Regions from separate parts of the Homo sapiens genome. Here all the other regions are linked to region 1. The links come from fine-mapping of genetic effects on gene expression. A gene starts in region 1. Each other region holds a variant in brackets. All regions are shown on one strand. Distances are between the middles of the regions.

Region 1 (8,104 bases):
AAAAGCAGCAAATGAAATGCTTGTTTCACTTTCAAACAAGAATTTGTTTTTGTTTTTTTGGGGGGGTGGGGTATGGAGTTTCCCTCTTGTCACTCAGGCTGGAGTGCAGTGGCGCGATCTCGGCTTACTGCAACCTCTGCCTCCCGGGTTCAAGTGATTCTCCTGCTTCAGCCTCCCGAGTAGCTGAGATTACAGGTGCCCGCCACCACGTCTGGCTAAAATTTTTTGTATTTTTAGTAGAGATGGAGTCATCGTGTTGGCCAGGCTGGTCTCGAACTCCTGACCTTAGATGATCCACGCGAAAGTGCTGGGATTATAGGTGTGAGCCACGGCGCCCGGCCAAACAAGAATTTGGACTTGGCTGGGCGTGGTGGCTCACGCCTGTAATCCCAGCACTTTGGGAGGCCGAGGCAGGTGGATCACGAGGTCAGGAGATTGAGACCATCCTGGCCAACAGAATGAAATGCCAACTCTACTAAAAATACAAAAAATTAGCTGGGCATGGTGGCAGGCACCTGTAGTCCCAGCTACTTGGGAGGCTGAGGCAGGAGAACGGCGTGAACCCGGGAGGCAGAGCTTGCAGTGAGCCGAGATAATGCCACTGCACTCCAGCCTGGGCGACAGAGCAAGACTCCATCTCAAGAAAAAAAAAAGAATTTGAACTTGGGTCAAACTCAAAGCTATTTATTCCTTAGCTAATCAAAAGTGGTTGTGTAGTTTCAACTGGATTTCTTTTTTGTCTGTTTGTTTGTTTGTTTTTTGAGATGGAGGCACACTGGGAGGCATTTAAGTTTTTGTCTTTTATCTAAACCTCTCGACTGGTATCTGGTAACCTGGTTATCAGTCTCTAGTCTTATATCAGCCTGGTATGACAACCACCTGACTTCTCTATGCTGAAATTTCCTCACACACTAAAAGAGAAGGTTGAACAAAATTAGTTTTTTGGTTTTTTTTGTTTTTTTTTTTTAAGACAGTGTCTCACTCTGTCGCCCAGGCTACAGTACAGTGGCACGATCTTGGCTCACCGCAGCCTCCGCCTCCCAGGTTCAAGCAATTCTCCTGCCTCAGCCTCCTGAGTAGCGGGGATTACAGGCACATACCACCACGCCCAGCTAATTTTTGTAATTTCAGTAGAGACAGGGTTTCACCATGTTGGCCAGGCTGGTCTGGAACTCCTGACCTCAAGTGATCCATCTGCCTTGGCCTCCCAAAGTGTTGGTATTACCAGCATGAGCCACCAAACTCGGCCCAAAATGAGGTTTTCAGAGAGTGAATGCATTTAATCAAAAATAGTACATAACTAAATTAACAATACAGGTGGTACATAGATATGGCAAAAGTCATGACCATGGTTAATGAGAATGACAGAGGTTAAGGAAAACAGGGTGCTGGGGCAAGGGTTTCTGCTCTTTCAATCAGCAGCAAAACCATTAAATAAAATTCACATGGAAGTCAAATAAATATGAACACAAAATGCTGCTCTGATTGAAGCCAGGAGCAGGGGGTCAGATATTCTCCCATCTGACTCCTCCCACCTCCTGCCACCCCACCCCCTGCTCCTTCATCCCCTGCACAGGTGCATACTCCTTTGAGTAGAACTTGAAATCCATTAAACTAGATGTTCAAGATTCTTTTTTTTTTTTCCAGACAGTCTTACTCTGTCATCCAGGCTGGAGTGCAGCGGCGTGATCTCGGCTCACTGCAACCTCTGCCTCTCAGGTTCAAGTGATTCTCGTGCCTCAGCCTCCTGAGTAGCTGTGATTACAGGCATACACCACTACGCCTAGCTAATTTTTGTATTTTTAGTGAAGACAGAGTTTCACCATGTTGGCCAGGCTGGTCTTGAACTCCTAACCTCAAGTGATCCACCCAAGTCTCCCAAAGTGCTGAGATGTCAGGCTTGAGCCACCGCGCCAGGCCTCAAGATTCTTTCTAGGCCAAAATTTTTTTAATCCTTCTTTCAAAGGCCAAGATATTACATCAACAGCTCTTCAGAACTTGCTAAGCACCATGATTTTATAAAGAAGAGAGTTTCCTGTTAATGATGTTATAAACTGATCATGTTCCCTCAGTGTTTGATATGAAAACCAAATGGGAGGAAGACTTGACAGTCAAGAGGAGTGACAGGGTTAAACACACAGACCGAGCACACAGACACGGGATGGCAGATGATGGGGATGACAGTGTCCATATTCACCTAGGACAAGGAGGCTGAAGAAAATGGTCATGCCGCTGGACTGCTCCTCTTGCTGGGCCTGCTCCCCTGTCTGCACGGGGAGGATGGGCTTGCCAGGGGTCGGGAGCACCAGTTTCGTCGTGACAACCAGGGTGGTGTGGAGGGTGACATTGAAACCCTCATGAGTTGTATTGGGGAACCTCCTGGAGGACATAGAAAGCATAATTAGATAATGGAAAAGGGTCCCAAAACATCAATTCACACACCTCACACCAGAAAGAGAAGCTGTCCAAGAACTTTATGGGATTCAGAAGTCTTTAACAGGCAGGCCTTCGAGAGAAACTTACTAAGAAAATCCCTGCCTGCACAGCACAAGGGTACCAGTGGCCTCTGGTGCTTTTGAATACAGCCACTTAGAGGACAAGAACGGTAGGGAATCAGAGCTAGTATAGAAATGAAATGCTGCCTGCTCTTTGGCAAATACTGGGGGATTTAAAGGGAGGCAAACTGGAGTCTCATCACTTTCCAAGGTCCAACACTGTTTACTTAGCACCTTTGTTTCTCCAATTTACATTATTTTCCTGGCATTATTTCTGCAAGTTGAAGAAGCCACCTCAATTTGCCCAGTTGTTGATCTGGGCATGCCCTACCCTACTTTACAAAATCCCTCTCAGATTTCAAACGGCTCAAATGTCACCTCCTATTACCCCATCTTACCACACCCGAATTTACCCACTCCACTGCGTATGTTCCCACAGCTCTTTCACACTGTGCTGGGATTGTGAACTAGTACAATATTGCTATAATAACTGTTACTGTGACTACAAAAGTTATTATTTTCTGAGCACTGCTTTATTCCAGGAACTAGGTAACACACTACCTCTCATTTAATAGGTATAACATGTCTGATTGGGTATGATTACTTTCCGTTTTTTACTCATGCATAACTAAGGCTCAGGGAGGTTGCAAAACTTCACCAACATCTCAGTTAGTGGCAGAATCAAGCTGAAAACCCAAACTTGAAATCGCTGGGCTATATTGCCTCTTTTATTTTGTGCTGCTGAGGCTGTTTAGTGTCTGGGATGGAGCAGCTGCTCAATAAATAACTGATTACATGAAATGACCCCCACATGGCCAAGAAATATATTTGAAAAGTTATCAGGTGAAGGACTCCAGTATCAATGAAGGGGTTCCTTATTCATCTTCACATACTCATTCCACAAACAGTGATAGGGCATCTACAATCTGCAACAGACTCTGCCCTGCAGGTATGGAGATGACTTTTGGACTTGCCCAAAAGTACCTGGAGGACACAGCCCGTCCTTCCCCATCTCCCCTTGTCCAGCTAACCCCCTTCCTCTCTACACACCAGCCATGCTGCCTGTCACTCAAAAGCACTAAACTCTTTCTTGAGCCAGGCCTTTTGAACCTGATGTTATTTCTCCTATCCCTCATTCTGGTCATTCAAGTTTCTGCTGAATGTCACTTTTTCCTGAGTGGACTCCCCAACCTTAACTCTATTTTGCTTCCTTCAGAACACTTAACCCATTCATGCCAGAGGTTGCAATTTTTAGAACTGCAGACGTGAGAAAAATCAGACCTTGGCGATGACCTTGAGCAGTAGGATATAAATAACTCCCACATGCTTAGCGTTCCAATAATGGAACACTAGGCACAAATAACGTTAATTAATCACGATCTGAAACCACCTTGACTAATTATGGTCTTCTTTTCCCACTAGAATGGAAGCTCCCAGAGAGCGGCTCCTGGTCGGCCTCCTTTCCTACCACCTGCCCAGGGCCTGGAATTGAGTAGATGGCTAACAGTTAATGACTAAATGAAACTTAGTGAAGGAGAAAGACATGAAAACTGATCGTTATACAGGAGGCGACTGGCTACGTAGGAGGTGGGTGTGGAGAACCCGGACGACTTCCTGGAGGAGGCGGAAGAGGGCTCAGTAACCATGAGATTACCGAAAACTGGGAAAGTAAATATGGTTTGTATTTTCCGCAAGACAGCTCTCCGGGCCTGCGCTGGGCAGTAGATTCCCAGCTCGAGGGACCGATCTCCAGGGGAAAGCAAGGCCCACCTGGGCCCAGGCCCGCCCATCCCGCCCTCCTCGTAGGCACCGGCTTGGTCAGTCCTGGCCAACCAGCAAAAGAAGCTCCGCCTTCCGGGGCCGGAGGGCGGCCTGAGGCGCTCGCTGTCACCCGCCGGGGCCCAGCCCCGCCGCCTCCGCCGCCCGGGAAAAAGCCCACTCACTCCTCTTCCGCCATCTTCTCCCCCATCCTGCGGAGCTTCCAGGACCACCGAGTTCGGAGCCGCGGGGCTAGCAGGACCCGCTTTTGCTTCCGGCTTCCGCTGGAGGCGCGGGCGGGCGAGCGGGAGGCGGGGCCTCGGCCGCGCGAGGGCGGCCCTCTGTCCCTCCGTCTCAGTGGCCCGAGGGTGGGAGAAAGCGCGTGGGAGGATTGCTTCTTAGTCTCTCCCGGGGCTTTCGGGACGCTTGTCCGGCCTGGGCCACATGACCACCTGGGACCGAGAGATTCCGGCTTTTCCCCATCACAGGGCGGGGACGTTTTGGGGAAACTCCTCTGAGGTCACTGTGACTCACCCTGAGGGCAAGCAAGCACCCTCCACCCAGTGCCCTCGACTTCGCTGTGCTAAAAGAGTTTGAAAAAGGATGCCCAGCCTGCAGCCTAAGCGGAGAGACCCCAGGGGGACACTTCCCCACCCGAGCCTTAGTTTCCTTCGGCTGTGGAGAGGAATAACCGCCTGGACTTGGCAGGACTGTGCAGCATTCCATCTGTAAACATGTGTTGAGTTCAGACTATATGCCTAGCGTTAAAAAGGATGCTGATGATCTAGGGGTGGACCATTCATTAAGGGGTTCATTGATTCACCACATGCTTAGTAGATGCTTCTATGTGCCTAGCAGTGACCGGTGGGGTGGGGATGCAGGGAGGAACAAGGTGAGGTGAGAGGGGTAGGTGAGACCCCCATCGGGAGGACTGGGGCTGAGGACTTTGAACTTTATTGGCCGCTTCTGTTGCTACCTCCCTTCCTGATCCAAGGCACTCTATCTCATCTGGATAATTGCAACGGCTCCATTCAGGGTCTCTGACTCACCCCTGTTCCTTACGGACTTCCACACAGCAGCTTAACTCATCACTCCTCTGCTTAGACCCTCCAATGGCTTCCAATCTCCAGAGAAAAAAAAAACGTGGGGAATGTACAGGACTCAATCCTGCCCCCTTTTCCCCTCTGAAGTGTGTGGGAGGGGGGCATGGGGCTCTATATCTCCCCTCCCACACACTTTGACTTTCCACTATTGTCCCAGACTCACCAGGAATACTTCCACCGTTGCACTTACTGAGCCTTTATCTAGAATGCTCTTCTTCTGGGTAGCTCTTTGGCTCCCACCTCTCCTACGTTTGGCCTTTTATTTAACCCTTATCTTGTGTGTTAGACCTCCTTGACCACCCTACTTAAAATCCAAGGCCCCCCGCCTTCCCTAAACTATTTTTCCACATGACACCTAACCTACCATATGTTTTACTCATACACTTGTTTGTTAACCATCTCCCTCCATGAGAACGGAAGCTTCATGAATGCAGAAATTTTTGTCTGTTTTGTTCTCCATTTTATCTGCAATGCCTACAACAGTACCTGGCACATAGTAGACACTCAATAATAAATAATCATTGAGTAAATAAATCAGTTAATTCTAGCACACCTAGAAGGGTTTTGAACTGAGAAGTAACCTAAGCTTTGCTGCCTGTTGGGAGTTGACTGGGGATTGGCGAGAGAGAGAGGATGGAAGCCCCAAAGCCAGCAAGGAGGCTTTTGCAATAATCTAGGTGACAGCTGATGGCAGTCTGGATGAAAGTAATACGGTGGAGGTGGCAGGAATGGTTGGACTCCTGGACGCATACTGAAGACAAGGTTTGCTGACGGACTATGGCGTATAAAAGAGGAGTTAAGCATGGTGTCAGGGTTTTGGCCCCGAGGAACTGGGTAGAGAAGAAATCTGGCTCTAACCTTGGGTTCTCCATCCTCTGCAGTCTCTTAAGACTGCTAAAGCTGACTGAGAGAATGTCATCAGGATCCACCAATGTTTATTGAGTAATAATAAACTTGCTTCCTTCCTGCAGGTGTGGTGTTGGGCTATTGTTTCCTTAATTCTTTACATAGCTTTGAGGTAGATACCATCATTATCCACAGACATAGAGAAATCAAGGCACTTGCCTGCGGTCCCACAGCTAGCAAATGACAAGGCTGGGATTCAGGCACAGAGCCAGTGTTTTTAAACCAGTAGCCCTGCTACTCTCCACTGCCTTAATTTCTCTGGCTCTTAAATGGGACTAATAACCTACTCTCCTCCGTTAGCACAGAGCCTGGCGGGAATGACCTGGTCTACAAAGGATTGAGAGTGGGGTTCTCTCTGGCCACACTTGTCAACTGAGGGCTTGAGGCTACCATTTTCTACCAGCACCAATAAACCCCACATGGCTGGAATTCGCCAAGCTGGAAACTCCACATAGCTGGAATTCACTACTCTTCTCTATCCGTTGTCTTGCCTACTGCCCTTGGCCTCCTCTGGGCCTACCACTAACCATGAGGCTGCAGAGAACATTCTCTCATGCCCATGGGTGAGTCTTTGGCTCTTCTCACCTATTCCTGAGAATGAATCTAAAATCCCTGGTCCTTCCCCGAGGAAGGTGAATAAAGCCATTCAACATGCAGTTTCTGGGCTCCAATGCTGTGTCAGGCCGAGAAGGAGGCAGCATAAGGCACCACAAATTCTGGTGCCAGACAGTGCTGGTTCCCAACCCCTCCTCAGGACCTACAGTCTCCGTGACCCTGAGAGGCTACAGCACCCTCAGAGCCTCAGGGCCCCCTCAATTTTTTTTTCTTTTTTTCTTTAATAACGCTTCTCTTTAGAAGACTGTTACAAGATTAGAGAGAAAACTGCCTTTGCTCTCCATTGTCTCTGCCTAGACAGCTCTGCCCGCTATCTCCAGTCTTCTTGTTATTCATGTCTCAGCTTAAATGTCCCCTCCTCAGGGAAGCCCTCCCTGACCAGTCTCTGTAAAGAGTCAGACAGTAAATACTGAAGGCTTTGTGGGCCTTACTATCTCTGTAGCAACAAATCAACTCTGTAGTTTGCATGCAGCATAAATAATATAAATAGGCATAGCTGTGTTCCAACAAAACTTTATGGATACTGAAATTTGAATTTTGCATTACTTTCACATGTCATGAAATACCATTCTTCTTTGGATTTTTTTTTTTTTTTTTTTTTGAGATGGAGTGTCTGTCACCCAGGCTGGAGTGCAATGGCACGATCTCGGCTCATTACAACCTGCACCTCCCAGGTTCAAGCAATTCTCCTGCCTCAGCCTCCCAAGTAGCTGAGACTACAGGTATGTGCCACCATGCCCTGCTAATTTTTGTATTTTTAGTGGAGATAGGGTTTCACCATGTTGGCCAGCATGGTCTCAATCTCTTGATCTCGTGATCCGCCTGCCTTGGCCTCCCCAAGTGCTGGGATTACAGGCATGAGCCACCAGGCCTGGCCTGTTGTTGTATTTTAAGATGGAGTCTCACTCTGTCACTCAGGCTGGAGTGCAGTGGCACGATCTCGGCTTACTGCAACCTCTGCCTCCTGGGTTCAAGCGATTCCTGCTTCAGCCTCCCAAGTAGCTGGAATTACAGGCGTGTGCCACCATGCCCAGCTAATTTTTGTATTTTTAGTAGAGACGGGGTTTCGCCATATTGGCCAGGCTGGTCTCAAACTCCTGACCTCAAGTGATCCACCTGCCTCAGCCTCCCAAAGTGCTGGGATAACAGGCATGAGCCACTGTGCCTGGCTAAGAATTTGATCTTTAATGCTTTTATTAAACAGGGAATCAAATTGGTTACCATGTA
Region 2 (8,104 bases), 240 kb after region 1:
CAGCCTCCCAAAGTGCTGGGATTACAGGCGTGAGCCACTGAGCCCAGCCTTGCTTCATCTCTCTTTCTTTTCTTTTTTTTTTTTTTTTGAGACAGAGTTTCACTCTTTTGCCCAGGCTGAAGTGCAGTGGCGCGATCAACCCCCGCCCTTCTGGTTTCACATGATTTTCCGGCCTCAGCCTCCTGAGTAGCTGGGATTACAGGTGTCCCCTACTACACCCAGCTAATTTTTGTATTTTTTAGTAGAGACGGGGTTTCACCATGTTAACCAGGCTGGTCTCGAACTCCTGACCTCATGATCCTCCTGCCTCAGCCTCCCAAAGTGTTGGGATTACAGGCGTGAGCCACTGCAGCCGGCCTAGCATCATCTCTTTTATTAAGTGCCTACTGCATGCACTAGACACAAGATCTTCTTGAATTCGTCCAACCACCATGGGAGGGGGGCCTTGTCGTCATCATCCTCTTGTACAGATGTACCAAGGCTCCAAGAGTAGAAAGCAGCCTATTCTAATTTAACTGGTACAAAGAACATTCAACCAAAAGGATTCTAAAAAGTTCAGAGATAAAGTATACATTAGTCAATTCTTGTTGCTTAAGAAGATCTCAAAATCTCCATGACTTGTAACAACACGTACATTTTTCTTCTTCGGACCTCTGCAGGTCAGCTAGGGGTTCTCTACTTCAGGCTGCAGGTTGAGCTCAGGTTTGCCCTGTGGGTCATGGCTCAAGGCAGAAACCAAGGTCAAGTGGAAATATGTGATTCCTCGTGAAACCTCTGCTCAGAACTGGCAACTGGTCATTTCTTCATCCTCCACTGATCAAATTGAGTCACAGGCCCGAGTCCACCATCACTGAGTCAGGGAGATACTATTCTCTGCTCATAGTGGGAGGCACCGCAACCCTGCAGCCAAGGGCGTGAATGTCTAATTCTGATACAGGGAGTGGGTAAAAATTGGAGACTATGATCTAATCTACTGCAGCACAGTTCCAGGGGTGGCTAATTAATTGTGTGACTTAGCAAAGATTCTCCTCAGGCTCCAAGGTGGCTGCCACAGCTCTGACCCAATCTCTGGCCACTCACACGCTACGCTGAGGTGTGGTGATAGCGTGACCAACCTTCCTGGTTTACCCAGGACCGAGAGGTTTCCCAGGATGCAGGGCTCTCAGTGCTAAAACTGGGAAAGTCTGGGCAAACCAGGATGCGTTGGTCACTTGACGTGTGTAGCAGATTGTTTCTGAACGTTTGGGGGTAACTGGGGCAACATGTGAGTGTGTATGTGAGAGTAGTGCATGTGTGTGTGTGCGTGTGTATGTATATGAGTGTATGTGTGGTGTTATTCCACAGCCCAAGACAGCAAACAACTAAACACTCAGTATGACACATCACCAATAGAAATGGTCATTTATTGGCTCCTAATTCCACAGAGGATGTCACACTGGGACAGGCCCCCAATCTGTGCTCATGTCGGCCTGGTCTTTGCCCCCTCTTTCAGGCTGCCCCCTAAAACTCTGTTGTCCTTCCTTAATTCTACAGAGCAATTTTGTTCAACATCCCAACTCCAAACCTATTTTACATACCCCAAATGTTTAAACCACTGGCCCTTGGCACAACTAGACTGCAGGGCTAAAAATCTGGGGGCAGGTGTGTGCTGTTGGTCTATGCAGCGTTTTAAAATAATTGGAGCCATTATTTCTGGCTTCTCTTGAGTCTAAAGATCTGGCCACACTAGGCATGTATTTCTACGTGGCTTTAGTTGGCTGGTACTGCCAGAAGCTGCTTCCTTTTGGATGGGGCAGCCCTCTCTAGTTTTCCATTGTTCCCATCCCTCCCTGTTGCCTTCCTGATATGACTGGCTCACTTCATTCATTTGCAATACTTGCTCGAAGACTTGAGTTTACCACTCTCTCTTTAGCAGCACAAAAACACCAGAAACGTTGCGGTTTGGGTCTCTCCTTCCCCTCCACCTCTCAACCTCGTTTAGCTTCTGTAAGTGGAAGAATTTATTCTTGCATTGTTCCAGTTTTAGACGGCAGCTGTGCTTCCTTTCGTAGCTGCAGCAGCCATGAAAACACACCTCTGGGACCTCCCTTGGTGGAGCCTGATTGACAGATATGCCATGCTTCCCAGGGTTTGCTCCTAGCCAATCACTGGGGGAAGCAGACTTGTTCTTGGGAGACATAGGGCTCCTCAGGAGGCTCAAGGACAACCTGTTAGCCTTGAACTAACTTACTTACTTTCTTTTTCTTTCTTTCTTTTTTCTTTTTGACAGAGTCGCTCTGTCACCCAGGCTGGAGTGCAGTGGTGCGGTCTCGGCTCACTCTAATCTCTGCCTCCTAGGTTCAAGCAATTCTCCTGCCTCAGCCTCCCAAGTAGCTGGGATTATAGGTGCCAGCCACCACTCCTGGCTAATTTTTTGTATTTTTAATAGAGACGGGGTTTTCACCTTGTTGCCCAGGCTGGTCTTGAACTTCTGACCTCAACTGATCCACCCACCTCAGCCTCCCAAAGTGCTGGGATTACAGACATGAGCCACTGTGCCCGGCCAGACTTGACCTTTCTAAGAATGCACTGCAGCCCACGGTCCCTTCTTTCCTCTGTCCCTTCCTTCCATTTGTCCTCCTTTCTGTCCCTTTCTCCCAGCCCTCTCTGGCTCCCTCTTCATTTTACTCCCTGGCACTCCCTCAATAAGCCTTTAGTATATCTCATCTCATCTTGGCTCTCCTGGAGAACCTGCTCCTAACCGATTTGGAAAAATCAAAAGGTAGAGAAAGAGAGGGCTTCCAGGCAGGTAAACAGCATGAGCAAAGGTGTGGAGGTGGGAAGGCCCAGGGTGTGTTTGCAGCACCAGGGAGTAAGTTAGCTTGTCCTAAGAAGCCATCAAATTCCCATGCTCTAGCTTATCAAAGGAAGTACTACGTGACCTTGGGTGAAGTGACTCTTTCTGGACCTTGATTTCACCATCTGTGAATTCGGAATAATTTTACTACCCATTTTATAGGTTCTTTGTGGGGAATAAATAAATTATTATGAAAAAGTGTTTCAGATGGCTTCAGTTACTAACTAAAGTTAGAACTATTGTTACAAAAAAATATTTAAAACTGCCCCTCTCTGTTGAGACTGGTTTTTAGCCTTGAAGAAGGCAATACACATAATATTTTCCTTTCCGGACACAGTTTATTTGTAGCCTTTAGGATGCAGACATGAATCAGACCTGATCCTTGGAAGAGAGAAAGCAGGGGTGTAGGGTAGAAGGGCTCCCTTTCCCAGGCAAAATTCCCTGTGTTCTAATTGGGTTGGGTCTTGACATTACTCTCACAACCCCACAGTGGCCACAGAAGAGAGCAGAGGCTTGGTGAGATGGGAGAGTTGCCTAGATGTCTTGTTTCTACTGGACAGTGAACATCTGAACACACTGAGGCTCCTACAGGGAAATGTCTGGATGTTCGTCCCTGGGAGAATAAATTTTCCCGGGGGTCCAGTTTCCCTTCCCCAGAGGAGCTTCCCTTCCCCAGAGGAGGGCTTAGATGGCACACTTGGAAGCTCTCTCGGTGGCTCCCTGCTATCACCACTACCAGCAACATGCCCATTGCACAAGTAAAGTAGTTGAGGCTCACAGATTAAGCGACTTGCTTAGGTTTATATGGAAAGCAAAACTTGCTTTTCAAATCCTTGCGTATTCCAGCCCTTTTGCCATGGGCTAGAGGGGTCTTCCTTGGGATGGTCTTCCCTCATCTTTATTCTGAGGCCATATCAGCTCTGTCCTCAGCAGGGTCCTTTGAGTCCTCCCGGGGCAGGGGAATTCGGAATTTCTGCTATTTTCAAGGCCTGCCTGTTCCTCCAAGATGCCATAGCCAGAGGGTTGGATGTCCTGTCAGCCTGATAAACATAGAAAGCTTACACAGTAAGCAAAGTAAAAATAATAAAACAAAGCAACACTTTTGAATTCTCGCATGGGCCAGTCCTGCAGAGGTGCTCCGGATGCATCATTGCCTCATTTGGTCCTCCCTTCAGCCATATCTAGAAGGCGTCTCAGTTGGGAATGTCTTTGGCTGCAAGTATTAGAAAAATCTGACTCATGGTGTCCTAGCACAGACGTGTGGTTAGCTCATTAAATGAGAAATCTATAGGCAGGTGGTTCCAGGGATGGTGATTCCGCAGCTCTGGTTTGGGGCTCTGCAGTTTTCTTGGCCTTCCCTCATAACACTACAGCCCCCCTCAGCTCCCCCACTAATCACATTCCCACACGATTGCCCCCAAAGCAGAAGAGAAGGCAAATAGGAAGGAAACACATTTTTCTAGAAGCCCGCAACAGATATCTGGAAG[G/A]TGCCCACCTCAGGACAAATCACTAGCAAAGGTGGATTTCCTGGACCAGCTCAGACCCATGGTGGGTCATTCTCTGGGAAGGGGGCCTGGCCACCTTCCTAAACATATGCCGACTCCTGAACAAATCCAGGAAGAACCAGAGGCTCACATTCATCTCCCTTTGGTGTGTGAGCAGCTGCCTCTCCTTCCCTGGGAGGATTTTGTCTATGGGTCGAGAAGGGAAGAGAGTATCTGGAAGAGATATTTGTATTGAGGTGATATTGGTCTGCACTGAAGCCAGGGGTGGGGAGTAGAAGAACTAATATTTATTGAGTACCTATTGTATACCAGACCCTGTGCTGGGTGATTTCATTCTCTTTTCATTTAATTCAGTTCTCAAAGCAGCCCCATGAGGAAGGAACTGTTCTTCCCATTTTTCAGATGGGAAAATTGAGACCAAGCCTGATCACAGATAATGGAGAGGAGCGGAACTGGTATAAGCGCTAATTGCGGTTAACTTTCCCTGATGCTCATGGTGTGACAGGCACTCACATAGGTGTGCCCCATGGACCAGGTCGTTTGTTCCTGACCTCAACTCCATGAGGTTCTCTTTTCCCCATTCTGTCAATGAGGAACCTCAGCTTAGGGAGGTGGAGCAGTCTGCTTGGGGTCACAAAGCTGAGGATCGGCCAAGCCCAGCTGTGAACCCCACTGCTAGCAGACAGCCCTTTGGAGCTCCCCAAATTTGGAGAAAATCCTCTGGACCCGTTCTATGGCCTTCTTGGGATTGTTGGCTTCTCTGGCAGATAAGCTGGAAAAATAAACAAGAGGATCAGAAAACTCCTTTTGCCTCCTGCTGTTCTGAATCTGCTGAGGCCACAAGGGGGTCATCCAGCTGCCTCGACAGCCAACATTAAGCAGGCAAATGAATGAATCTTGAGTATGATAGCAGGACATGTGAAGTACTGCCAGAAAAAAAAACTATCAAAAAAACAAAGAAACAAAAATCAGTAAGAGGAGATGACTGTTTTAGACCAGGTGGCCAAAGACAGCTTCTCTGCAGTGACAGCTGAGCAGAGATAGAGGCACCGGGGAGGTGGTGGAAAGAGCAGGCTGTGCGAAGAATGCTCCGAACAGAGGGAACAGCACGTGCAAAGGCCCTGCAGTGGGACCTCTAGGGAAAGATGGGGAGATCAGTGTGGCTGGAGCAGAGTGGGTGAGGGAGAGAGTCGGGGGCATAGGGTCAGGCAGGTAAAGGTGAGAAGGGGCGGATCATGCTGGTTCTCGAAGGGCCTTGTCAGGACCCTGGCTGATAAGGATGGAAGCCAGGAGACCAGGAGGAGCAACAGCTTCTCCAGAGCTCTGCTGGGACTATGGAATGAAACGTGCCTAAGCTCACCCGGCACTGAATGGGTGGATACAGGACTAGAACAAGACCTCCTGGGTCTTACCTCCAGGTTCAGCCCATGGTTTCATAAAACTTAGTGTGCCAAGCACTCAACAGTTTGTGATTCCTTTTAGTGTCAAGCTCTCATCACTTCCTCACAACAGCCCCAGAGGTAAGCACAACTCTGCCCTCCCTGTTTCCAGATAATGAGGTGAGCTCAGAGAGGTTGAGCTACCTGCCCAACGCTTCCCAGGGTGGGAATGGGGATGGTGGGGGCAGGGGCGTGGAGTGAGGCTGGATTGACCCCCAGTTCTCATCAGCACCCTGGGGTGGTACATTGCAGAGCCGCGGGCACAGGGGGCTGGCACCCCAAGCACCAGGTAGCGATGACAATGGCCACCACATCCGGAGGCCCTAACGTGCACCAGGTAGAGGGTGCATACTTCACGGGCACTATCTGTCCCCAAAGCAGGTGAGGATGAGGGGACTCCCTGAGACACCCTTGTACCCCCTGCCCAGTAGTTACTGAAGATACTATAGGGTGCGATATAATCCAGACCAGCCCTCCCAGCCCAGACCACAGAATGGAAAACTCCAGGTCCCCAGCACGCCTGGGGTGGGGGATGGGGTGAGGAGGAGCCTTGGGGGGTTTCCTCTGTCTAGGTGGAATGTGGAATGTGGTGGGAAAGCTCCTCCTGACCCCCTTACACTCCTCCTCCATGTTCGTCCCCTCCCACCACATTTTCTCCTCCCACTGTGCCCCCTCCTCCCCATACCTCCTTGGCTGTTTCCCCATCGTCCCGCCGTCTTCCCACATTCCCTCCTCTTCCCTTCCCCAAAAGTCCTCTCCCATCTTCCCCATCCCTCTTCCCTCCCCGCATATAATCTCTTCCTTCCTGTAAATCCTCTCCCTCTCCCCTCCCTTCCATCACCCCCCAGTCCACCACATCCCCCTCAGTCCCCCATCTATCTCCTTTCCCCTTGATCACTCCCCAGCCCACCACATCCCTTCCGCCCCCTCCCCCTCCCCCTCCTTCTCCCCTCCCCTCCCTCCCACATTTTCCATCAGGCCTGAGCTGGGGGGAGCAGGGTTTCTAACAGAGCGCCCCGGTCCGACCCCTGCGGACCTCGGAGGGCCCCATCCCCCACCCCCCCCACCCCGCCCCAAAGCGGGCTGGGGTGGGCGGAGTGGGAGGGGCGCGCCGGGTGGGGGCGGGGAACTTTACCTGGGAGTGGGCCAGGCCGCCAGCCCCGCCAGCCCCGCCAGCCCCGCCAGCCCCGCGATGGCTTGGGCCGCGCTCCTCGGCCTCCTGGCCGCACTGTTGCTGCTGCTGCTACTGAGCCGCCGCCGCACGCGGTGAGTGTCCTGCTCCGCTCGGCCCCGCCAGACAAAGGGGGCGGCTCCCGCCCGGGCTGCAGCCCAAGGGTCTCGGAGCCCGCGGCCGGCCCGGCCCGAGTCCCGCTCCAGTATCCCGGGCAAGGCGAGACCCTCGGAGGTGGGAGTCCCGGGGCCCCGCACGTGGGTGAGGGGGCCAGGCCGTGCTCCCCCTGCCAAGAAGGTGCAAGGTGGGAAGGTGCGGGGTCCGGTAGGTCCCCCGGGGCGAATCGCCCACCGCGACAAGTCCGAGTCTGGCCCTTAGCGCGACGGCAGGGACCTAGGAGGGGGTTTCAGGTGAGGACCGAGGGTTTGTGGGTGGGGAGCCGTGCGGGGACAGCCTCTGCGTGGCCCGGGTGGAAGAAGCGCTCTCCACTCTCCAGCCTCTGCCTGCACCTGGCACCCACCTACGCGCTGTCAAACCCTGCCTTGCTTTCGGCAGTCCTATAGGGATAGCCTCGCTCCTCAACCCATTACACAGATGGGAGTGTTGAGCCAGCGGAGTGTAGAGCCCCTGGGGGATGTCTTGATCATGCCCTGGAACCACCCACCCCGGGATTCCCCGTCTGGAAGACGGGGGTCGGTGGGCTTAGTAATTTCATTTGCCAGGGAGAAACTGAGGCCTATGAAGTCTCTACCTTCCCCTGAGGTCCCACAGCCTGGACAGAACGGAGCCAGGGTCAGATGTCACAGCCTCCTGGTCCCAAAGGTTTTCCAGCTCCATTGAGCATCTGTGATTTAGGAGAAAAAGTAAAGACAGCCTCAAATCAAGGAGATAGCTGTAGCTCTCCTTTTCATAAAATATTTTTTAAGTTAACTTGAATTGCATAAGGAATAGCTGAATACATTCGACTTAACACAAATATTTATCCTGTTATAGGTAAGACCGAAGCCCCTTAACCCTCCCCCAGCCCCTGAAGTCTAGTCCTCTCTCCCTCTCTGGGCCTCTCCTGTTGCTGAGTCTGGGTAGAACCTTCCATATTTAAAAAAATATACTTTTTATTTGAGACTAGTTTGGGATTTACAGAAAGTTGCAAAGA
Region 3 (8,104 bases), 60 kb after region 1:
AAAGTCTGATGCCAGCACTCATTTGGAAGGAAATCCTGACCTGTCCTGAGGTTATACATAATCTTATTGAACCCATTTAGTGTAAATTTTGAAACTCTGATATCCGATAAATGGTTGTAGCCTCGTGATACTAATCTTCATGACAACACTACGAGGTGAGTACTATTGATATCCTGACCTGGGAGGAATTTGTTTTTGTTTTTGTTTTTGGGACAGAGCAAGACTCTGTTTTTGTGACACAGCAAGACCAGGCTGGAGTGCAGTTGTGTGATCTCGGCTCACTGCCACTTCTGCCTCCTGGGTTCAAGTGATTCTCCTGCCTCAGCCTCCCGAGTCACTGGGATTACAGGCACGCATCACCACGCCCGGCTAATTTTTTGTATTTTTAGTAGAGATGGGGTTTCACCATGTTGGCCAGTCTGGTCTTGAACTCCTGATCTCAAGTGATCCACCCGCCTCAGCCTCCCAACGTGCTGGGATTACAGGCGTGAGCCACCGTGCCTGGCCAGGAATTTTTTTTTAAGTAGTTTTCTTTATGCAGGACTCTGCAGAACCCTTAATCTGCCAACATGCTCTGTAAATCTCCAGGAGGCTGCTATAGAATGCAGCCTTCCCCAGACTCACAGACCATGGATGTCAAGGTCATTTTTTTCCCCAGGAGATCTCCCTGTGCTATCACTTTGAGAACCTGGGAGGCCTACTGGGTGGAACAGCCTGGAAGAACTAAGGACCCTGGGCAGAACAGGAGCAAGAAGGAGCCTAGCTAAGTGGACACTGGAGTCCTGTCACCAATTAACTGTATGTGTCCTTGAAAAAAATCTCTCCTCCTCTCAGAAACTTAGCCTCTTGACTCAAAAAACACATGACAAAACCATCTTTGAAGTCTCTTAGCTCGCCAGCAGCATTTTCTCTTGTCTTTTGAAGAAGAAGCAGGCGGATGCATTTGAAGAAGACAGTCACAAGAACTTCAAGGGGGTACAGCTGGTGCCAGGTTCCCCTTCCTGGAAATCATTTGAAATATCAGGCTGGGCTGGGAATTGCTCAGCAGTGGGAAGCAGGCAGGAAGAACTCCAAATGTCCCTCAAGCTGCAGGATGCTGAGTGCCAGATCACTTTCCAACCCTTTAGTATCTGAACTTGCCAATGACATTTCTTTCTTTGTTGTTCCAATGGCCTCTCCGAGACCACTTCAGCAAGAGCCAGCCTTGCCAGATTAAATGTACTTCTTTCATGCGCTTAAAAGAAATGAAAAACCTGGCTGGGCACCGTGGCTCACACCTGTAATCCCAGCACTTTGGAAGGCTGAGGCGGATGGATCACCAGAGCTTAAGAGGTTGAGACAAGCCTGGCAACATGGCGAAATCACATCTCTACTAAAATTACGAAAAATTAATCAGTCGTGGTGGTGCATGCCTGTAATCTCAGCTATTTGGAAGGCTGAGGCACAAGAATCACTTGAACCTGGGACAAGAAGATTGCAGTGAGCCGAGACTGTGCCACTGTACTCCAGCCTGGGCAACAGAGCAAGATTCTGTCCCAAAGAAAAAAAAAAGTTCCCAAGTGTTCCACATACTTTGAAGTTTTACTATCTACTTTTTGAAATGGTGAAAGTTGGCCCCAGAGAAACAAAATTCAAGCACACACAAAAAAATCTGAATTAAATAGGTCTCCCTCCCATTCCCCTCTGCTACCTGTCCCCCTCCACAGAGGCATTCAGCATTACCAGTCTTGTATATCTCCTTCCAGGTTAACTTTAGAGGCATGGAAGCATATATTGTTGTATCTGTTGGGATGCTTTTGGCTGCAAATATAAAACAATACCCAACCCGCAAATGTATAATTTACCTATGAGGAGTCTGGATGTAGAACAGTTTCACAGTTGGTTCATTTAGGGAAGCAATGCTATCACTAAGGATTCAGATTCCTTCTCTCTTCCTGCTCTGGCATCCTTAGTACTATAACTTTGTGTCTTTTTTTTTTTTTTTTTTTTGAGATGGAGTCTTGCTGTGCTGCCCAGGCTGGAGTGCAGTGGCACGATCTCGGCTCACTGCAAGCTCCGCCTCCCGGGTTCACGTCATTCTCCTGCCTCAGCCTCCCGAGTAGCTGGGACTACAGGCACCCGCCACCACGCCCAGATAATTTTTTTGTATTTTTAGTAGAGACAGGGTTTCACCATGTTAGCCAGGATGGTCTCGATCTCCTGACCTCGTGATCTGCCCGCCTCGGCCTCCCAAAGTGCTGGGATTACAGGCGTGAGCCACTGTGCCCAGTCACTTTTGTGCCTGTTTTTTTATTTTTATTTTTTAATTTGAGACAGGGCTTCTCTGTTGCCCAGGATGGAGTGCAGTGGTGCAATCATGGCTCACTGTAGTCTTGACCTCCTGGGCTCAAGTGATCCTCCCACCTCAGCCTCCCTAATAGCTGGGACTACAGGAACACACCACCACCACTCCAGGCTAGCTAAAACAATTTTTTTTTTTTTGAAGAGATAGGGTTTCACTATGTTGCCCAGACTAGTCTGGAACTCCTAGGCTCAATCAATCTTCCTGCCTTGGCCTCCCAAAGTGCTGAAATTACAGGTATGAGCCACCGTGCCAGACTTTTGTGTCTTGATACTGGGTGAGTCAGTAGCATGGGCAGAAGGAGTATCCTGGAAGCCATTTCTCTGCCAGGACAACAAGCAATACTTTCCTTATTCACCGAAAAGATCGTGAGCTACAAGACTACATCCCGCTAAAGCTGCGTGCAGTGGTGCACACCTGTAGTCCCAGCTACTCAGGAGCCTGAGGTGGGAGGATCACTCGAGCCCAGGAGCCCAAGTCTAGCCTGGGCAACACAGTGAGACCCCCACCTCTATTAAAAAACAAAAAAAAGATTACATCCACTAAACCCAAATTTAATGGATTCCCTAACTCATCTTCCCCTTAGCTGATCCCTGCCCATAGCTCCCCAAATGCCACCCGATGCACATTCCCAGGCAGGCAACGTTGGGGAGCTGGAGAGACCTTGTCTAACCAGTTGCAGCTAAAATACTTACCTTTGCAGATGTTGCAGAAACACATGACTGTGTGAACATATTGCTAGATTTGGAAGGGGCTGTGCAATTGAAGAGCCCTGATCTCAGCTTTGCTTCATTCACTTAATGGTGGATCTATCTCTAGATTTTCAGAAAAGCTGGACAGGACTATGTGATGAATCAGATGTAAAAAGTGAGTGAAAGGCCAGGCGTGGTGGCTCATGCCTGTAATCCTAGCACTTTGGTAGGCCAAGGCAAGTGGATGACTTCAGGTGAGGAGTTCGAGACCAGCCTGGCCAACATGGCGAAACCCTGTCTCTACTAAAAATACCAAAAAAAAAAAAAACCAAAAAAAAAAAACCTGGGCATGGTGGCACACACTTGTAATCAGCTACTCCAGTGGCTGGTGCGCAAGAATCTCCTTGAACCCAGGAGGTGGAGGTTTCAGTGAGCTGAGGTGGCGCCACTGCACCCCAGCACCCCCCAAAAAAAGTGAGTGAAAGAGAGAAAAATCCAGAATTATTTCAGTGTATTTTTGGCTTGAGTAACCAGGTATTTAGTAAGGGAGAAACAGGTTTGGAGGGTGAGGAATCATAAAGTTTAATTTTATTAGACAGGCGTGGTGGTGTGCACCTGCAGTCCCAGGAGGCTGAGGTGGGAGGATTGCTTGAGCCTGGGAAGTTGATGCTGCAGTAAGCCAAGATTGCACCACTGCACTCCAGGGCAGCGGAGTGAGGCTCTGTCTCAAAATAATAATAATAACAATAAAAGTTTAATCTTAACCATGTTAAATTTGAGATTCTTACTAGACATTAATGAGCAGTTGGACACAGAAATTAGGCATTTATTATCTCCACAGTTCTTAATAAGTAAATCTTGCATCTGTAGGTTTTTTTGTACTTAGTCAAAGCATCCCAATAGTTACAATATTTGCATATATGTGTGTACTATATTATACACACACATATATACTTCTATTCATCCATCTATCTCTCTACAATTTACCCGGAAGATGATGCATGAAACTAGTCATAGTGCCTGCCTCTGGGGAGGGGGGACTGTTGGCTACAGGATGGAGGTGGGAGGGAGG[C/T]GGGAAGCATACTTTTACTCTGCTTGAATAAAGAACTGGAGACTAAGAGGAAACTTACTTAAGGTCACAGAGCTGGTGGGTAGCAGGGCTGCCATTTGGGCTGAGGTTGGCCTGGTCCCAAGTCCAAGCTCTTTCTGTTCTGACAGGTTCTCTCTCCTAAATGTATACCTCCAGGATCAATGCTGTCTTTCTTGCTGCCTCTCCCTGGTCTGGCTCCTCTGTGTGTCTCACTGCGGCATCTCCTGTGGCTGAGCATTAATAACTGGCTAAAAGGATTCCTGCCTGTGGCCAGGAAAGGCTGGGTGCACTCTTCTTCCCCTCCATTCTGGAAATCATCTATGTAGCCTGTGGCTACAGCTGCAAGTGAAAATAGTGCTGGAAGGTTCCCAGAAAACACACCTGCCCCAAATGGACCAATTTCTCCTGCCTTCCTTTACTTAAAGATTAGAGATGTTCAGAATTCTGGTCACAGGCCTGGGTTATAACTGCTGCTCTTTCACTGCTAATGGTGCTGTGTGTCCTTGGGAAAGTTACTTACCTTCTCTGTGCCTCGATTTCCTCATCTACAAAATGATATTAATAGCAGTAGCTATCTCACAGGACTGTGGTAAGGGTCAGTGAGCCAGCAGGTGTAAACTGCGTGGCTCTCTGCCTCTCTGGCACACCATCAGTCAACAGGCATTGCTCCCACCCCACACATGCCCTTCCCCCACAGTGCCTTAGCACATGGAGTTCCTTCTACCTGGAATGCCTTTCCCTTCCCCTCTTATTAGTCTAACCGTCTAATTAATGACCACTCACCCTTCAGAGCCTCCAACATTTTACTGTAACATTCACAAAGACAGGACTGCTTGTGTCCCAACACCCAGCACACATGGTATTTGGCATATAGTTGGCATTCATTAATTGTTTATCCATTGAGTGAGTGAATGACTAAGTGAATTAATAAGGTGAAAGATCAGTTAATGCTCACTCATTCAATATATGTTCTGTAAATGAGGATAATAAATACCCATCTGACTGTATCATTAGGCTTAAAAATGCTGCGCATTTAGGTCAGGCACAGTGGCTAACGCCTGTAATCCCAGCACTTCGGGAGGCTGAGACGGGTGGATCACTTTGAGGCCAGAAGTTTGAGACCAGCCTGACCAACATGGTGAAACCCCCGTCTCCACTAAAAATACAAAAAATTAGCTGGGCGTGGTGGCACACGCTTGTAATCCCAGCTGCTCCGGAGGCTGAGACATGAAAATCACTTGAACCCAGGAGACAGAGTTTGCAATAAGCCAAGATGGTGCCACTGCACTCCAGCCTGGGGGACAGAGTGAGGCTCTGTCTCAAAAACAAAGAAACAAAAAAGCAAAAATGCTGTTCATTTAAGTGTCTAGAGTGATACCTGGTCAGCAGCACTGAATAACATTTATTATTAGTGCTATTTTATATTATTATCATTTTAAAAATTTTTTGTCGTTTTTGTGGAGACAAGGGGTGTGGGGAAGGGGTTGCCAGGTTGCCCAGGCTGGTCTCAAACTCCTGGGCTCAAGTGATCCTCCTGCCTCTGTCTCCCTGAGTGCTGGGATTACAGCTGTCAGGCACCACACCCAGCTATGATCATTATTATTATTTCGCACAGGTGTTCTTGCATCTTACTGGTGGGCTTAGGCGTTCTTGGCCCTGCTCTCATGGACAGGCCCCTTCAGAGCTTCACCTTGGCAGCTGGATGCACTTCTCTGTCCAAGCAGCCTCAGCCTCCAGATGCAGGAATGTTCCTGTCTTGGGGAAACAAATTCTTAGCTTCAGGCCTGACTTCTGCCTGGCCTTGGCTTCAGTTTCTTTGTAGATAACTTCATTCAGCTGCAGAGCATCATGGACATATCGTGTGGTTTCTGCCCAGTTTGTGGTGACCCATCTCTCTTTGAAACAGGTGCAACTACCCCATGAAACCACGCGTACAAGCTACTCAACCCTGCCCTCCAGCCAGAATTGACTGCACAAAGACGGGCACCTGACTGGTTGAGGTGATCAGATTCTCTGTCTTGAGAATGTGGTGAGTCTTGTGGGCTGTTGCTTAAAGGAAGGGGTTGTGCTGTCAGGTGCTATGGGGCAGTCGGGTTTGCTCATGGGCTCAGGGAAGAAGACAGGGAGAGGGAAAAGAGAGAAGCAGAGATGAGGAAACCTGTGGGCAGAGTCATAGAGAGACCAGGATTTGGCTGCCACAATTCCTGGTGGCCTTTCAGGTGCTCATTTAAGAAATGTGTGAGGCCACTGCACTTCCTGCCCTTGTGTTTCATGTGATAACAGCGGTTCTCACAAAAAGTACAGCCAGGTGGCATAATAGACACCTGTTGTCTTTGCCTTTCTGGCCTTGATGCCCCTTCTGGAAACAGCACCTGCATTCTCCCGGGAGCTACGGGTCTCCTCCTTTCTGTCCGTGGGGGCCAGCTCTGCCTAGCTCTAGGCTGGCCCAGTCACAGCGATTGGTTTAGAAATGGGCATGTGACCAGGCTAGACCCAGTGAGACTTCCTTCTGGGACTTTCTGTTCTCATCCGTGAAAAGACAGAATTGCCTGGCTCTGCGGTTGCTGAGAGGCCATCTTGACCCAGGAGTGGGGACACAGCAAAAGCTGGAGTGCAGCACTGGAAACGGAGGGAGAGTCCCTGGAGCCACATGTTGGCCCTTGGGTCCAGCTGTGCTGGAAGCTGGCACTTGTCCTGATGTTTTCAATTAAGTGACCAAAAATAAAAGTTGATTCTCCTCATGCTTCAACCAAATTTAGTTGGGTTTCTGCAACAGCAGAAACACTCCTGACTGATACTTCTTATGGTGAATTTCCCCTTTTTTTTCTTTCTTTTTTCCTCTTTTTTTTTTTTTTTTTTTTTTTTTTTGAGACAGGGTCTCATTCTGTTACCCAGGCTGGAGAACAGAGAACAGTGGCACAATCATGGCTCACTGAAGCCTCAAACTCCCTGGGCTCAGGTGATCCTCCCACCTCAGCCTCCCAGTAGCTAGGACTACAGGCACTCACCACCACACCCAGCTAATTTTTTGTATTTTTGTAGAGACAGGGTTTCGCCATGTTGCCCAGACTGGTCTCAAACTCCTGGGCTCAAGCAACCTGCACGCCTTGGCCTCCCAAAGTGCTAGGATCACAGGCTGAACCACCGAGCCCAGCCTCCCCCTTTTATTATAGTTGGAGCCAGTTTTAGTGGGTTATTTTCCACCAGATCCATAGATCTTGGACTGGGATATTGAGCCTCCATTCTAATGCCCACACTTCTGTTTCATTCCCAGTGATTTTGTAGGTTCCCAGATTTTGGCCTTAGTTCCTTTTCCTTTTGCTTTTGAGAAACTGCCTGGGATAAAAGAAGTGGGAACTTCCATTCATCAAGCGATTACAATTTCAATAATTGTAACTTCCATGAGGAAGTCATTCTAATCAGCCCCATCTTGGGATATGGTGGTTTAGAGTCAGAAGTGAGATGAGGACCAATGAAGGCAGGATTTTACAAATGAGGAAATGGAGGCTCAAACTGGTGAAGTGACCTGCCAAAGATTACCCAGCCAGTAAATACTGAGCTGGGATTTGAACTCTGCTCTACAGGACTTCAAAGCCTGGCTTTTAGCCACTATCTGTCCTGCCCAGGAACAAGAGCAATCCAATGCACAACCACCTGCCTAAGTAACATGCATTGGAGGCCCCAGGTTTATGCTTTTCCCCCTGCAAATTCCAGGTCTAGGTGTTTAAGAAACAAGCAGACAAGAATAGCTGAGGATGTGTTTCACAGCCCTGAGCATGCAAAACTAGGGCCGGGCGCAGTGGCTCACGCCTGTAATCCCAGCACTTTGGGAGGCCGAGGCAGGTGGATCACGAGGTCAGGAGATTGAGACCATCCTAGCTAACATGGTGAAACCCCATCTCTACTAAAAACACACACAAAAAAATTAGCTGGGTGTGGTGGCGGGCACCTGTAGTCCCAGCTACTCGGGAGGCTGAGGCA
Region 4 (8,104 bases), 25 kb after region 1:
AGATTGGCCAACATGGCGAAACCCCATCTCTACTAAAAATACAAAAAATTAGCTGGGCGTGGTGGCAGGCTCCTGTAATCCTAGCTACTTGGGAGGCTGAGGCAGGAGAATCGCTTGAACTGGGAGGCAGAGGTTGTAGTGAGCCAAGATCACACCATTGCACTCCAGCCTGGGTAGCAAGAGTGAAACTCCATCTCAAAATAATAAATAAATAAATATTAGCAGTTGCTATTATGTCACTGCCTTACTCATAAGCATTCAGTGGTCACCACTGGCCTTAGGAGACAGTTTGAATTCCACATCATGGACCACAAGGTCATGGTCTATTCCCTTACCGCCCCTCTTCCTTCCCTCTGTTCCCCTTGTTCTCTGTTCTCCAGTCAGAGAGAAGTGGGCTTCTCTCACTTCCTCCTGCACCCCTCACCTTCCCTGCCACTGGACCTTTGCATATGAGATTTTCCCTTGCCTGAAGTGCTATTCCCTCTTGCCCTTCTTTTGCCTGGTTAGCCTCTAAACACCTTCACACATCATGTACAACGGCACCTGTTTCAGGAGGTCCTGTTAGAATAGGTTGAGTTTTCTTGGTCTATGTGTGTGTAACTGTCTATAATTTCCCTTTTGGAATGCTCTCCCTCCTGGAATTGCTTGGTGTTGATATCCTCCTGTCAATGGTGAGCTCCTGGAAAGCAGGGGACTCTTCTGATTTTATCATTAAAATTTTTTTATTTTAATTTTTCTTTTTTAGAGCAGGGTCTTGCTCTGTCGCTCAGGCGGGAGTACAGTGGTGCGATCGTAGCTCACTGTAGCCTCGAACTCCTGGGCTTAAGCATTCCTCCCTCCTCAGCCTGGGACTACAGGCACACACCACCACTTAATTTTTTTTTTTTTGGTAGAGATGGAGTGGTCTCCCACTGTTACCTAGGCTGGTCTCAAACTCCTGGCCTCAAGGGAGCCTCCCACATTGGTCTCCCAAAGTGCTAAGATTACAGGCATGAGCCACTGTGCCCAGCCCTGACTTTATCATTGTTGTGAGCCTACGGCAGATACTACAGATTGGCTCACTCACCTATCCCATTCCCCTGTAGTGTGACCTCCTGTACTGTAAAGGCCAGACAGAGAAAAACTACATTCTGAGATTTCTTTGCAGCAAGAGTGCCTTATGTGATCTGGGTTCCCCTAGTAAGCCTTGGAGACAGAAGCAAGCAGAAGGATGCCAAGTGGTGGAGTCTTCTGGCAAGCACAGTGGGAGCGGTATCTGGTCCTTCTGGGGAAGCATGGGGCAATTCTAGCAGCCTGTCTCTAGCTACCTAGGTCCTGAGTTTGGGGAGAGGGGGGCAGCAGCAGCAGTGATATTTTGATTAGAACAGTTCAACAGTGAAGGTGAGTGTTGCTCCTGGCATCGATGCTCCTGGCTGCACCGTTTGTGGCTATTTAACATCTAGAGTACTTCCTACCTTTCATAAATCCCTTTGTGGGCCAGGCACGGTGGCTTATGCCTGTAATTCCAGCACTTTGGAAGGCCGAGGCAGGTGGATCACTTGAGGCCAGGAGTTTGAGACCAGCCTGGCTAACATGGTGAAACCCCATCTCTACTAAAAATACAAAAAATTAGCCAGGCGTGGTGGTGCATACCTGTAATCCCAGCTACTTGGGAGGCTGAGGCAGGAGAATCACTTGAGCCCTGGAGACGGAGGTTGCAGTGAGCCGAGATTGTGCCACTGCAGTCCAGCCTGGGCAACAAGACTCCATCTTAGAAAAAAAAAAAAAAAATTCCTTTTCTGCTTAAGCTGGCTCTAGTTGACTCTGCAATTTAGAATTCCTTGCCCAAGCACTCCATAAATATTTCTTGAATGAATGAATGAATGAATGATGACCTCTCAGGAATCTCTCTCTTTCCCACTGATTATATCCCCAAGATGGAACATCTCAGTCTGAGTCTACATCACAGGCCCCAGATGGGTAGGGTTCTTTCAAAGGTCAGGGACAGGAAAATGACGTTGAATGTCCTTATCACTGGCCGGACAAGAACACTGAGGCCTTGCAGATGAAAGAATCCGAGGAAGGAACTGGGGTTATCTCCTAAGGCAGGTGGGGGGCGCTGGCTAGGAGCCTTGGAATGAAAAGGGTTGGGAAAGGTTAGTGTGTGAGAATGAGGTGGAGAGGAGGCAGCCAGGGTGGATCACTCAGCTGTCCCAGGGCCTCTCAGGGGGCTTTCTCTTACTGGGTCCCTTTCTGCTATGCACACTGATAAGTCAACTCAGTGCATATACTTCCTTTGAGCTGAAAAGCAGGCTGGAAAAATACAGTTATGAGGCAAATATTTTAAAAGAATTCTTGAACCATGCGTCTGCCAGAGCAGCTTTAGCTGTGCGTGACAGAAAACCAATCTTACGAAACGTTTAGGTTGGTTTCCTGCAGAAGCAGATCTGAGACAAGGATTTGTGTGCAGATATTAAATCGTTTACTTGAGAAATGATCCCAGGAAGCTCTGGTCGGGGAGGGAAGTAGGACAGGGAAGGGAAAGAAACCAATAGAAGGTAAGTTACTGAGCAGGTTATCACTCTGGGCAGCTGGGGCTCAACCCTGCTGGGGAACTGTGGGACACAGAGTGCAATACACCTCAGAATTATCCAGGTGAAGGGCAAGGGAGTGGGGACATTTATCCACCAGCCCCTGTCACTCATTGGTTAAGGGCTGCTTGTAGGGGAGGGTGAAGCCCCCAGCATTCTCAGACTGTGTATGCAGAGCGTATATGAGAGCAAAGCCCTCAGGCTGCAAAGATAGGCGTGGAAATTTGAAGCCATCCACTCACTGTGGGTCAAAAGGATGAATGCCAAGGGGATATGGACACAGAAGCCACGTCATCTGCTACAGTGACTTAAGTCCAAAGAGGAACCATATTGAGGATGGGCGCGGTGGCTCATGCCTGTAATCCCAGCACTTTGGGAGACCAAGACAGGTGGATCACTTGAGGTCAGGAGTTCAAGACCAGCCCGGCCAACATGACAAAATCCTGTTTCTACTAAAAATTCAAAAAAGTTAGCTGGGCGTGGTGATACGTGCCCATAGTCCCAGCTACTCAGGAGGCTGAAGCAGGAGAATTGCTTGAACCCGGGAGGTGGAGGTTGCAGTGAGCTGAGATGGTGCCACTGCACTCTAGCCTGGGTGACAGCGAGACTCCATTTCAAAAACAAAAAACAAAAAAACAACAAAGAGGAACCATATTGACTCATGGAGAATAACATGTTCAGGAATATGTGGCTGCCTTCAGGTACAGCTGGATTCAGGGGTTCATAAGTTATCAGGGCTCAGTCTTTCACTCTCACAATGGTGGCTACCTTTGAGCTTCAGACCCTCTTCATACCAGCCTAGCGCAGCAGAAGCAAAACAATCCCAGCAAAAACCTGAGGGATAACTCACTGGTCCACTTGGGGCAGGTGCCCATTTCTGAGCCAATCCCTATGGGCAGAGAAATGAGGGGTGCTGATTGGCCAGCATGGAGCATTGGCCTTCCTGGAACCAAGGATAAAGTTAGTGCTGCATGCCTTTCACATGGACAGGGAGTAAAGAAGGGGGCTCCCAGAGAAATTAGGATGCTGTTATGATAGGGGAATTCATAGTGAGTAGACAAAACCAAAAGGATAGATGTAATCTAAATCCCCACTCTGCAGACAAGGAACTACTACCTTAAAAATATACAATAAAATATTTTTTATTATCTATCCCTAGGTAAGGGAAGGGCCTTGTCCCAGCTCATTCAGTTAGCAGCACCCAGCTTCCTGTCTTCACCTGGTGTCTTTTCTTCTGGAGCAGGTGGTCTCCCAATAAACAGGGTTTGTTTACCCAACACAAACACATTAGTGTCCTTCCTGTCCTAGCTTCTTCTCCCAATCCACACTCAAGGTGACTCTACTACATATATTCCTGTTTTTTGTTTTTAAGAGACAGGGTTATGCTCTATTGCCCAGGCTGGAGTGCAGTGATGTGAAGAAGCTGGGACTACAGGCATATACCACCACACCCAGCTGATTTTTTTTTTTAAACTTTCTGTAGAGTTAGGGGTCTCACTATATTGCCCAGGCTGGTCTCAAACTCCTGGCTTCAATCAATCCTCCCGCCTTGGCCTCCCAAAGTGCTGGGATTACTGGCATGAACCACCCACTGTGTCTGTCTACTTCCTGCTTTTGTTAAATTAAAAAAAAAAGAACATATTTATTTATATATATATATATATATATATATATAGACAGAGAGAGAGAGAGATGAGACAGATATAGCTATAGATAGATAGATAGATAGATAGATAGATAGATAGATAGATGTATACACATATGTTGAGATGGGGTCTTGCTCTGTCATCCAGGCTGCAGCACAATGGCGCAATCAAGGCTCACTGCAGCCTCAACCTCTCAGGCTTAAGTAATCCTCCCACCTCAGCCTCCTGAGTAGCTGGGGCTACAGGCACACGCCACCATGCCCAGCTAATTTTTTTAAAAAATTGTTTTGTAAAGGCAGGGGTCTCATTGTGTGGCCCAGGCTGGTCTCGAACTCCTGGCCTCAAGTGATCCTCTCACCTCAGCCACACCTGGCTTAAATAAATATTTAAATCCCTATTTTCAAGACAGAGAAACTGAGAGTTTAAACAAATGATGTAATGCTGGGGTTGACATGAGCCATGTGGGCATGTCGGGGAACAGTTCTTCACTGGCTATAAGTTAGTCATGTGGCTACCCCTAGCTGCAAGGAAGGCTGAGATAGGTAGTAAAGCCATGGGAAGCCATGTGCCAAGCTAAAAATCAGGTATACTCTTACTAGGAGAGAGAAGACAAGAACACAAATTAAGGGATCATTTGCAATCTTTGACCAAAACAACTGACTCTGAGATGATCCATAAAAGGTAACTGCTATTGTTGTCTCTTTTTTGAAAAACTCAGAAGGTATATTTGTTTTTGTTTGTTTGTTTCTGTTGAGACAGAATCTTGCTCTGTCACCCAGGCTGGAGT[A/G]CAGTGGTGCAATCTCGGCTCACTGCAACCTCTGCCTCCGGGGTTTAAGCAATTCTCCTGTTTCAGCCTCCCAAGTAACTGGGATTACAGGCGTGTGCCACCACACCCGGCTAATTTTTGTAGTTTTAATAGAAACGGGGTTTCACCATATTGGCCAGGCTAGTCTTGAACTCCTGACCTCAACTGATCCACCCACCTCGGCCTCCCACAGTGCTGGGATTACAGTCATGAGCCACCCTGCAGGGCCTCAGAAGGTATATTTGAAAGATGCGCATAAATGCTGGGTACTGATATCGTTCTGCACTGGACTTTGGAATCAACAAAATAGAGTTTAAATTTTTATTTCATGCCTTCCTGGGCTGTATGACGTTAGGAAAGTTCCTTAACCTCTCTGAACCCTGCTTTCATCATTTGCTAAGCAAGGATAATGGTATATTACTCATCAACGGCTGGGAAAATCAAATAAGACAATGGACATAAAGTTGAAGTATAGTATTCAGTCCAAAGAGGGTGTTCAATACATGGTCATTTTATTGATAAGGAGTGTATGCTGGGTTAGAACATGAGCTTGGAGATCAGAGAGACCTGGCTTTAAATACAGACCTTCACTTCCTGGCTGAGCAAATTATTTAACCTCTCTGTGCCTCAGCCTCCCAATATTTGAAATGGAAGCAGTAACAGTTCCAGCCCACTGGGTGGCTGAAGCATGAAAGAATGGATGGCACATTTTATTTTATATTTTATTTTATTTTATTTTATTTTATTTTATTTTTTGAGAGATGGAGTCACCCTCTGTCATCCAGGCTGGAGTGCAGTGGCACGATCTCTGCTCACTGCAACCCCTGCCTCCCAGGTTCAAGCGATTCTCCTTCCTCAGCCTCCCAAGTAGCTGGGATTACAAGTGCCCACCACCATGCCCAGCTAATTTTTGTACTTTTAGTAGAGATGGGGTTTCACCATGTTGGCCAGGCTAGTCTCGAAATCCTGACTTCAAGTGATCCACCCGCCTCGGCCTCCAAAATGCCCGGCCAGATGGCACATTTAAACCAGTCAAGCAAGTATGCTTTCGCTTTATTTTGTGTTATTATTAGGTTCCTTTTTCTCTTTGAGGGCATGGAGGAAGAGACAGGGTCAAAAGGCTGTTGCTACAAACATACAAAGTTTGTAGTAAGTAAGTCTTACACAAAAGAATACGTGTTATGTGCTGCCATTTCATCAAGTTCAAAAAACGGCAAAAATCATCACTGCTGTTGGAATCAGGATAACGGTTATCGCTTAGGATGGGAAAGACTTGAAGGGAGCTTCTCCGGGGCGGGGAATGTTCTGTTCCTTGAGCTGGGGGCTGGTTACCCCGCTGTCTGCCTTTGTGAAAATGTATCGAGCCATCGCTCCCCTGTGCACTTTCCTTATTTGTGCACTTTTCTGTATGTCTGTTACACTTCAATAAAAAAGTTTTCCCCCAAAAGTCTCTGTGGTCTGTTGGAAGCTGGCAATGGCCAAGGGGCTGAGGCGCACAGGTGGGGACCCTTCCTTGCTAGCCACCGCAGTTTCTGTTTCAGCTTGAGGTACAGCAATCAACTTCCTCTTCAGATGCATGACTTGCTGCTGACCTCTAGAACCTCTGGCCACAAGGCTCCTCTTGCCCCTGTAATGTGGCCTGATTCCATTCCTTCATCTGGGTCCAGTCTGGTGCCAGCCAGCCTGACTGTCCATATTATCAGACGCCAGGACTGTGGGACAGACTTGTTTAGAAGGATATTTTGATCAGTAGCCTTGGGTGGCAGCTTCAGATCAACCTCATATTGAACTTACAAGGAGGGTTGGTGCTGTCTGTTCTTTCTTTTTTTTTTTTTTGAGACAGAGTTTCACTCTTGTTGCCCAGGCTGGAGCGCAATGGCACGATCTTGGCTCACCGCAACATCTGCCTCCCGAGTTCAAGCGATTCTCCTGTCTCAGCTTCCCAAGCTGGGATTACAGGCATGCGCCACCACGCCTGGATAATTTTCTATTTTCAGTAGAGACAGGGTTCCTCCATGTTAGTCAGGCTGGTCTTGAACTCCCAACCTCAGATGATCCGCCCACCTCGGCCTCCCAAAGTGCTGGGATTGCAGGTGTGAGCCACCGCGCCTTGCCTGTTCTTTTATTCATTAATTCAAACGACAAGTTGTAGACACCTAACATGTACATGGTTCATGGTTTGTACAAGGATACTTCATTCATGCATGCATGGATTCATTCATTCATTCATTCACATACCTGCTAGGCACTGTGCTAGGTGCTGGGAACGCATCTGTGTAGAAAACAGACAAGGTCCCTGCACTCCTGGAGCTGATTCATTAGTAGAGGGAAACGGAAAATAAATAAATAAATTGCCCAGCATGATGGTTCACTTATAATCCCAGCACTTTGGGAGGCTGAGGCGGGTGGATCGCTGGAACCCAGGAGTTTGAGATGAGCCTGGTCAGCATGGCGAAACCCCTTCTGTACAAAAAATACAAAAATTAGCCAGGTGTGATGATGTGCACTTGTGGTACCAGCTACTTGGGAGGCTAAGGTGAGAGGATTGCTTGAGTCCAGGAGACAGAGGTTACAATGAACCATGATCACACTACTGCACTCCAGCCTGGGCAACAGAGTGAGACCCTGTCTCAAAAAAATAAAAATAAACAAGTAAATGCACAGTATGTTAGATGGTATGAGTGCTACGGAGAAAATTTAAGCAGAGACACGGACAGTGAGTGCAAGACGTGTTTGGGGGCAGGTTGCAATTTTTAATAGAGTGTTCAGAAAATGACTTCCTGAGAAGATGGCATTTAAGCAAAGACTTGAGGAAGCCAAGGGAGTTGGCCATTTGAATGTATGAGGGAGGGCTGGGTGTGGTGGCTCACACCTGTAATCCTAGCCGTTTGGGAGGCTGAGGTGGAAGGAATGCTTGAGGCCAGGAGTTTGAGATGAGCCTGGGCAATATAGTGAGACTCCCATCTCTACAAAACAATAAATAAATTATTTATTTATTTATTATTTAATATATTTCATTATTTAATATATATATTATATATAAATATATATACATATATTATTTAATATTATATATAAATATA

Alleles and levels. Alleles are on the strand shown, and positions count from the first base shown. SD is a standard deviation of normalised expression in the study named. Not every link is listed here.
With allele A in place of G in region 4, the expression in whole blood of the gene that starts at base 4,559 in region 1 is higher (small effect, 0.10 SD a copy in GTEx).

The links. PIP is the estimated chance that this variant, and not a neighbour inherited with it, causes the effect.
Region 2: its variant is fine-mapped to the expression of SLC9A8 in gastroesophageal junction (GTEx, PIP 0.97).
Region 3: its variant is fine-mapped to the expression of SLC9A8 in whole blood (TOPMed, PIP above 0.99).
Region 4: its variant is fine-mapped to the expression of SLC9A8 in whole blood (GTEx, PIP above 0.99).

Annotation. Positions count from the first base shown.
Region 1 is chr20:49,809,283-49,817,386 of GRCh38, reverse strand. It overlaps SLC9A8 (solute carrier family 9 member A8), which reads right to left and starts at 4,559. Exons shown (of 16, transcript NM_015266.3): 1 at 4,439-4,559; 2 at 2,198-2,379. The coding sequence starts at 4,464. RefSeq lists a silencer at 4,311-4,590 and an enhancer at 4,741-4,880.
Region 2 is chr20:49,566,985-49,575,088 of GRCh38, reverse strand. PTGIS (prostaglandin I2 synthase) reads left to right here and starts at 6,952. Exons shown (of 10, transcript NM_000961.4): 1 at 6,952-7,046. The coding sequence starts at 6,973. It overlaps LOC101927486 (a long non-coding RNA gene), which reads right to left and starts at 7,045. Exons shown (of 2, transcript XR_244188.4): 1 at 6,916-7,045; 2 at 3,155-3,876. RefSeq lists enhancers at 5,421-6,035, 6,036-6,652. The variant G/A (reference allele first, on the strand shown) is at 4,324.
Region 3 is chr20:49,749,280-49,757,383 of GRCh38, reverse strand. No RefSeq gene overlaps it. Among named protein-coding and RNA genes, the nearest start is that of B4GALT5, 39 kb to the right of the region's middle. RefSeq lists an enhancer at 6,462-6,551. The variant C/T (reference allele first, on the strand shown) is at 4,106.
Region 4 is chr20:49,784,440-49,792,543 of GRCh38, reverse strand. No RefSeq gene overlaps it. Among named protein-coding and RNA genes, the nearest start is that of SLC9A8, 24 kb to the left of the region's middle. RefSeq lists an enhancer at 6,622-6,861. The variant A/G (reference allele first, on the strand shown) is at 5,004.